Homo sapiens: one gene and its partner. The protein of the gene in region 2 interacts with the protein of the main gene of each other region in a pairwise test. Each region holds a gene or a part of one and is shown on either strand. Other genes may lie near its edges. The genes, in order: MAP2K5 and GRM1.

Evidence for each region.
Region 1: the proteins of GRM1 (region 2) and MAP2K5 come close enough for resonance energy transfer, tested with the Homo sapiens proteins (one large-scale study listed by BioGRID).

What each region holds. Positions count from the first base shown.
Region 1 is NC_000015.10:67,545,703-67,549,523, reverse strand, and holds part of MAP2K5 (dual specificity mitogen-activated protein kinase kinase 5), read right to left. Parts: intron 431-3,821; exon of another isoform or gene 344-430; coding exon of another isoform or gene 317-343; intron 1-316. UniProt on the Homo sapiens protein: Acts as a scaffold for the formation of a ternary MAP3K2/MAP3K3-MAP3K5-MAPK7 signaling complex.
Region 2 is NC_000006.12:146,158,039-146,161,859, reverse strand, and holds part of GRM1 (metabotropic glutamate receptor 1 isoform alpha precursor), read right to left. Parts: intron 2,513-3,821; coding exon 2,263-2,512; intron 1-2,262. UniProt on the Homo sapiens protein: G-protein coupled receptor for glutamate. Ligand binding causes a conformation change that triggers signaling via guanine nucleotide-binding proteins (G proteins) and modulates the activity of down-stream effectors.

The DNA of each region.
Region 1 (3,821 bases), on a different chromosome or scaffold from region 2:
TCAACAAATGTAGTTCCTGATATACAACAAGCAACACTGTGCCTCGCACTCATCATGGTAGGAGTTCGACACCCAAGTTTCCATGACGATATAAACCCATTATGCCACATTTAACACAAACAGTTCTTATCAACCTTTACTCTTAAGCAACAGAAAACATACTTAATGACACCGAAATAAAGTTAATCTAGCCTACAACAAAAATCTAAAAAGGGTATATAATCTGACATCAATGCTTAAATAAATCTATAAAGTTGAAAACACATGAAAATTAGTATACTGAGACAGCTTAATTGAATAAGCATAGAACACCTACGCTCTGGGGAAAGTGACCCTCCATCATGTCCAGTCCAACTCCAATGGCCTGCAAACCTCATTTCTCTCCAGGAGCTCTGCCACAGTGTCCCTCCCAGGCTGCAGCAGAACTGGCACCAGGCAGCCGGCTGACAAAGCCGCTCGCAGTATTTCTCAGCAGGGAGCCCACAGCCTTTCCAAGCAGGGCACTTAGCAGAGTGGCTGCAACTTCCTTCTAAAGGCAATTCTTTAGAAGCTTTTGCTGCAGTGGCAATTTGCATAATAGTCTTGCCTCTATAGTGCTTTTTTTTTTTTTCAAAAATAAATCTGTGCATATAAAACTGATCAAAGAGGACTATCTTAGGCAGTCCTTGCTCATTACAGCCAAAAGAGATTTTTTTTTCTGAGTCTAGTCCTCACAAATGAAACATCAACTTTTTGAGGAAGCATCTATAAAAGATTTTAGTGTTAAAAAATTATTTCTACACTCTCATAGTTAGAAAGTATTTATTGACAGGAAACTGTAAAGGGAGTACAGAATAAAGCACACAGGCAATCCAGTGGAAAGCCTGAAAACATGAAATTGCAGCCAAACAGCTACAGCTGGATGCTAGCTCTCTGGCACAGCTGAGTGCACAAAATCTCTCTGTGCCTCACTTTCCTCATGTGTAATATCAGATCTTAGCTGTACCTAACAAATGAGTTAGTATTTGTAAAGTACTCAGAAGAGTGTCTAGCACATGGCAAGTGCCATATTAGTGTCAAATAAATAAAACAAAACACCAATAACTGGAATATTACAAAGCTTACTTCGTAATAAACTTTGAAATTCCAGCACCCTACAATCAGTGGAGGATGGTGATTCACTCACTGACTTCATCCTTCAGCAGTACTTATTGAACACTCATTCTAGCCAGTGTAGGTTTAAAAAAACGAGGGGAAAACAACTGCTTCATCCCCAACTCTCTAAGTCTAGGTTATCACCAGTTATTTCCAGGAAACTCCGATCTTGAGATGTGAACTGTACCTCTATAGTGTTAGCAAATTAATTTAGGCTCCTTCCTACTTAGGAATAGCAGACCCCATCAAAGTGCAGAGTTCTAACAACCAACTGAAAACCTGCTCAGTGGCAATGGCATGCCTTAGCCCATCGACATAAACAAGGCACTGCACATGCTCCTCACCTGATACGAGGAAAAGGGAGAAAGAACAAAGCAAACTTGAGTGAGAGAATCATGTGAACACAACCAACCATTTTGTTCTTTAAAGCAAATAAAGTGGGGCAATCATAATGACAAAGAGGTAAGAAGTTTAAACATCAGTAATATCTACTAGTCATTTTAAAGCAGGGTACATTTGATGATTTTATATACATTTTCCAGCTAAAGTGACTTATTTCCAAGCGGCCTTCTTCTGCTCTTGACAATATAACATGTACCTAACTAACCTAAAGAAGGTTTCAAAAGAAAACCGGGATGGGCGCAGTGGCTCACACCTATAATCCCAGCACTTTGGGGGGCCGAAGTGGGTGGATCACTTGAGGTCAGGAGTTCAAGACCAGCCTGGCCAACATGGTGAAACCCTGTCTCTACTAAAAATACAACAAAATTAGCTGGATGTGTGGTGTGTATCTGTAATCCCAGCTGCTCAGGAGGCTAAAGCAGGAGAATCACCTGAACCTGGGAGGCAGAGGTTGCAGTGAGCCGAGATCACGCCACTGCATTCCAGCCTGGGCAACAAAGCGAGACTCTGTCTCAAAAAAAAAAAAAAAAAAGAAAAAAGAAAACCGAAGTTTACATATTTTGATGATGACCATTTTTTGATACTTTTCTTCTTCCTTTCAATAAATCAGACAAATATCTGACAGATCCAAAACATCATTGAGCATCTACAACATGCCACGAGCATAAAGATCACAAAGCTGTAGGCTACAGGACAATAAAACTTGATCCTTGACTTTAGGAAGATTATAAACTGGTTACAGAGATAAAGACAAACCTGAAAGACTAGTAATATAAAACACTTAAGAGTATAAGCACCAAACAAAAGACATAAACAGCCAATAGTATTTGGTAACTCAGGAGAAAGGAAAAAATCACAGACTCAGTTTAGACAGAAATCTGTGTGTGTGTGTGTGTGTGTGTGTGTGTGTTTTCTTCTTTTTTGAGATAGGGTCTCGCTCTGTGACCCAAGCTAGAGTGCAGTGGTGCAATCACAGCTCCCTATAGCCTCGACCTCTAGGTTCAAGAGATTCTCCCACCTCAGCCTCCCTAATAGCTGGGACCACAGGTGAGTGTCACCAAGCCCCCACTAATTTTTGCATTTTTTGTAGAGATGGGGTTTTGCCATGTTGCCCAGGCTGGTCTCGAACTCCTGAGTTTAAGCGATCTACCCACCTCGGCCTCCCAAAGTGTTGGCATTACAGGCCTAAGCCACCACTCCTGGCCCAGAAGTCTTATAGATGAGGGGAAATCTGAGCTTGGAGACCACAGAATACAAAAAGAAGAGGGGAGAGGGTTGGGCATTCTCTCTCATCACACACTAACCAGACCTCTTGTATAGTTTTCCCAAAACTAGGAACTCAGTCTCCAGGGAAAAAGAGAAACACAGAAAGCTGCAAAACAGAAGACCCAAATGTCTCTACCTTTGAGGGTCAGGTCAGCCTCCATAGTTCAGCCAGTCCCTGATGATTCAGACAAAAGACAAGGCCCAGAGAGACCGACTGACTTGCCCAGGGTCTCCCAGCTATTTGATGCACAGTGACTGGAGCCCTCAACTGCTGACTTCAGGTCCGAGACACTCAGTTATGGCTGACTCGGTGACTACAACCTGCTTCTGGCATCTGTGTCAGGTTCTGCCAAAAATTAGCTGGGTGGCTTTAGCAAGGTATTTTCCCCCTGTGGGGTTCATGCCTCTTCATTCGAAATGAGTCTGAATTAGATGAGGGGATTCTTCCAGGTTCCACGTGACTTTAAAGTTTAAGGTTCCAAGCCAGAGATGCTGACGTGTCTCTTGGTTCTTGCCTTTTCTTGATGAAGAGATGAAGTAAACCTGGAGAACAGATCACAGGAGTCTGCCATGATCTGGGCTTGAACATTTGCTAAAATGGAGCACTAGGAGATAGCACTGAACACCCACTGCCACAGGTCCTTCGTCAGGCCTTTCTGACAAAACATGCTCCACCTGGGCTTACCTAGCCAAAAGTGTGCAGACACCTGGCATGCTGAGCTCTAGTGGTGGGGCCACTCGTGTTTCCTGTTAAGCCAGTCAGCCTTGAGCCAGGTACAACTTAGAGATGCTCAAGAAACAGAAGACCCAAGTCCAATCCCTTATAATAACAATCCCATCAATAATAACAACACTAATGGAGCGCTTACTATGTGCTAAGTTGTTCTGAGTGCTTTACATGTATCAACTCAAGGAGTCCTCAGAACTCTAGGAGGTAGGCATTACTTTCACCCCTCCCCAACTTTTTTTTCACAAATAAAGAAACTGAGATACAGAAGATACTTGCCCCAGTAGTACAA
Region 2 (3,821 bases):
TCTGAATGTCATGGAAGGGAGAGAAAATTGTGAGCCAAAAAATTTTAAAGGCTGCTTTCATTAAAATTCTCTAAGATTCGAGATTAAACGCCAACACCATTTTGATAGACACTCGTGGAAAGTAGCCCAGAAGAACAGAGAGACACTTTCCTTCACTTGGCAAAGAGTATGGTATAGCTTTGTCATCTCAATGATTCCATGCATCAGTGACCGTAACTATTAGCACAGAAAGCAGTGTCCTCAGAAGCTCAGGTGTTCATTGAGACAATAGCTCCCTCGGATATGTGGAATCCAGTAGAGGTGGGGCAGGTAAGAGGAATAAAAGAGGTAGACATCACATGTAGCTGACCTGTTCATAGACAAGCACATAAACAAACACATGTGCGACTCTCAGAAATACTTGTATGAGTTCAATTGCATTATTAGGAGGTAAAATAAAAGAGCTAGAAAGACTTAAGTTGCCATTATCATTCTTGTCCAGCTCACAATGGTGACAGGATACATTTTTCACACTCCAATTACACACCGCACAATTTTGTGTAATTATGTTTCATAATTAGGTAGTCTATATGCCCCGAAGCTCACAGGTTTGCCACATCTTTTCAATATCTCCAGAACCCTTTTTTGAGGATATTATAAAAGGAATAAATTCTGCAAAACAGACTACTGTTGTTTTGTAAATTATAAATATGAGAATTTTTTAAAAACAAGCAACCTTCCTAAAAGCAGTCATGTTACAGAGCAATGGAAAGGCCTGAATGTCTGGACACCCTCTGTCCTGGTGCATATATTACTCTGTGTAACACTTCAACAATACTGCTTACCTTCTTTTCACTCCTAAAAGAAATAACATTTCTTATTTAAATACTCCTTAGAAGACCTGCTTTCTTATGAACATTTTATTGGCTTCCAAAAACTGCACCATGTTGAAGACGCCAAGTTGACTCTGTGTGCCAGTGTGCCAATTTTGCCCACATTTAATAATTATCTTAATCATGAATTACAATTTGACCTTGGCTCCACACCTCCTCATGCTTGGAGAGTATCTCTGTTTCTTTATTCATTTATTTGTATTTCTATCCTATTTTCTTTTAAAAAGTCCCTCAAGTGTCTTATACCTCTAATTTCAGGTGATGGCAAAGTTAGTGTTCCTAGAATTGCAGTCATTATTATAAACACAAGGACAAAAGGGAAAGGTCCAGTGAGCATGTCCACACCAGTACTACCTAGCTTCCAGAGCAGAAGATCAGTGGTTGAGGCTCTTTAATGGGTGTGATATGATTGTAGTGTACCCAGAAGAAGAGATGGGAAGAGACAAAGAGCTTCGGAAGATGAGTGTGATAGGGTTGAAGATCAGTAAAGATCAGGTAAACTCAGTAGGTTCCTGGGGAAAACTGAGCAGGTTATTTATGCAATATTAGAAGCTGGCAAATTAAACAAGATATCTGTTAGGTCAAAAGCCCTATGAAAAATCCAGTGATGATGACCATCTATTGCCAAACAAGTACACGTGATTTAGAAAGAGAACAGAAATTTTGGGAGCCACCACCAGCAATTCCAGAAATCACATGCAGAAAGCATCAAAATTAGCTATCTCATAAATGTGACAAGATGATATATTATAAAATTCCACAGTTCCGTTGCATATCTTCACTTGTCTTTAGCCAACTCTGTAAATTTCAAATCTTAATACATATTTTCCATTTTCACTGCTGTCCTTTATCCACTGATATCTCAATAAGATGTTCATGTTTAGGAGGTAGGAAGACATAAGCATCGGCTTGGGTGTGGAGAAAGCAAGTGAAACGAATAATTCTCCAGATCAAGACATATTCTGCCAAACAGCTTTCCATCTTTTTTTTTTTTCTGAAAAAGTATCAGTATCTTGTTATATGCTGCTCTGCTCTTGTTTTTCTTTCTTTCCTTTTTTTTTTTTTTTTTTTATAGTTAAGGTCTCACTCTGTCACCAAGACTAGAATGCAGTGGCACCAATCATAGCTCACTGTAACCTCAAACTCCTGGGCTTAACCAATCCTCCCTCCTGAGCCTTGTTCTGCTGTTGTTTAGCAGGAAGATGCCAATATTCACATTAACAGTGAGATCCAGAACTAATGTTCAGCTCAGCACTGCACATCTCTCCCACTTTGGAGTTAGCAAGTCTAGTTTTGTGAAAGCAAGCATATGTGTTTCAAAGTGTGTGTGTGCATGTGTGTGTGTGAGAGAGAGAGAGAGAGAGAGAGAGAGAGAGAGAGAGAAACTTACCTTCCAATGAGTGAGAACTCGCCCACGACGCCAAGGCGCCGCATGGCGCTCAGGAGTCCTCGCACTGTCATGCCTTCACAGAAGCAGACCACCACTCTAGCCTTGGGAAGCCTCTCTCGGAGTTTGCGCAAGAGTCGGTCAAAGCTCTTCTCCCCAGCGTTGCTGTAGATTTTGTCAGAATGGGCGATACAGAGGCCTTCCTGGGCAGCCAGCTCTTTGAAAGCGTCCATTCCGCTCTCCCCATAATTCCCTGTCCAGAAACAATCAGCAGATGTTCAAGACAACTGTGGCAATAACACTACTTACACAATGGAATAACAACTTGTTAGTCACAGGAATGGAGAGAACGGACTTGCCAAATAATTTGTAAATATGGCTGAGACTGACGGAAGATCTGGATGGATTAAAGAGAGTAATCAAATGTAACCAGACAATCAACTCTGTGGAAATAACGAGAGACGATCTGAGCTAGGGAACCTATAATGAGACATGTTTTATAAAATGAAGGATTGCTGCCCTATTTTACAACCATTATTAATAGTTCTTGTCCCAGATTTTAACCACGTAGGAGAGATCAGTGCATTGGACTAGGGAGGTCAAAGGAGCATGAAGAGAAGCTCTGTTTATTTGAGGACTTGCATCAGCTGGCTGCCAGGTTAAGAGACAGACACTCTTGGTAACATAAAGTCCTGCAACGTTTCCACGAAGAATGAGCAAGCAAAATAAATGGAACACCTGGCCAGGCCAGAGATCAGCAGACCAGAAACAGCTATAGGGCTTTGTCAAAATCCACCATCCTCTGACAAAGTGATGGGATTATGAGAGGTTTGTGTCTTATATTTTGATTTTTGTTTTATAGCATTCTTGTAATAAAATACACTTCAAAAAACTGAAAACTCATAGAAATCAATGAGATAAATATTACACTTTACAAGTTCCCTGTCTCTCTATTCCACTGATGATTTTAGCCCCCATTTTATGAGCCTCTGTGTCTCTATTCCTCTCCCGAAGTTTGAGGATTTTCACTTGTATGTGGATGATACATCTGATACCATGCCCTCACGATTTCTCAAACTCTCCCCTTCCACTGATGTTTCCTGTAACCCACACATGTCCAGGGTCACACTTTTGACCATGTTATCACAGATGTTTCTAATACCTCTGAATGTGGATGTCAAACATCCATCTCTGCTACCTCATCTTATCATACAAACTCATATATTCTACTACCTCTACTGCAGCACTTTTTCAACCTCATCAAAATTTCAAATCCATTAACCTTCCTATTTTTTCCTTCCATCCTCCCTCTTGTTTCCTTCTTAGCCCAGCTTAGATTTCATAGTCTACCTCTTAATTGCTTCTTGCAAATTCCTTAACTCTCTTATGTTTTCCTGACATTAATGCTAGTTAAACCCAACCATCTACCTATTCCATGTCTACACCTGAGCACCTAAATATGGCTAAAAAAGACACAACCTTGCTGAATGGTTTTATTTAAAATTCATCAGCACATGTACCAAAAATGATATTCAATAGCACAAGGAAATTATACTACATCA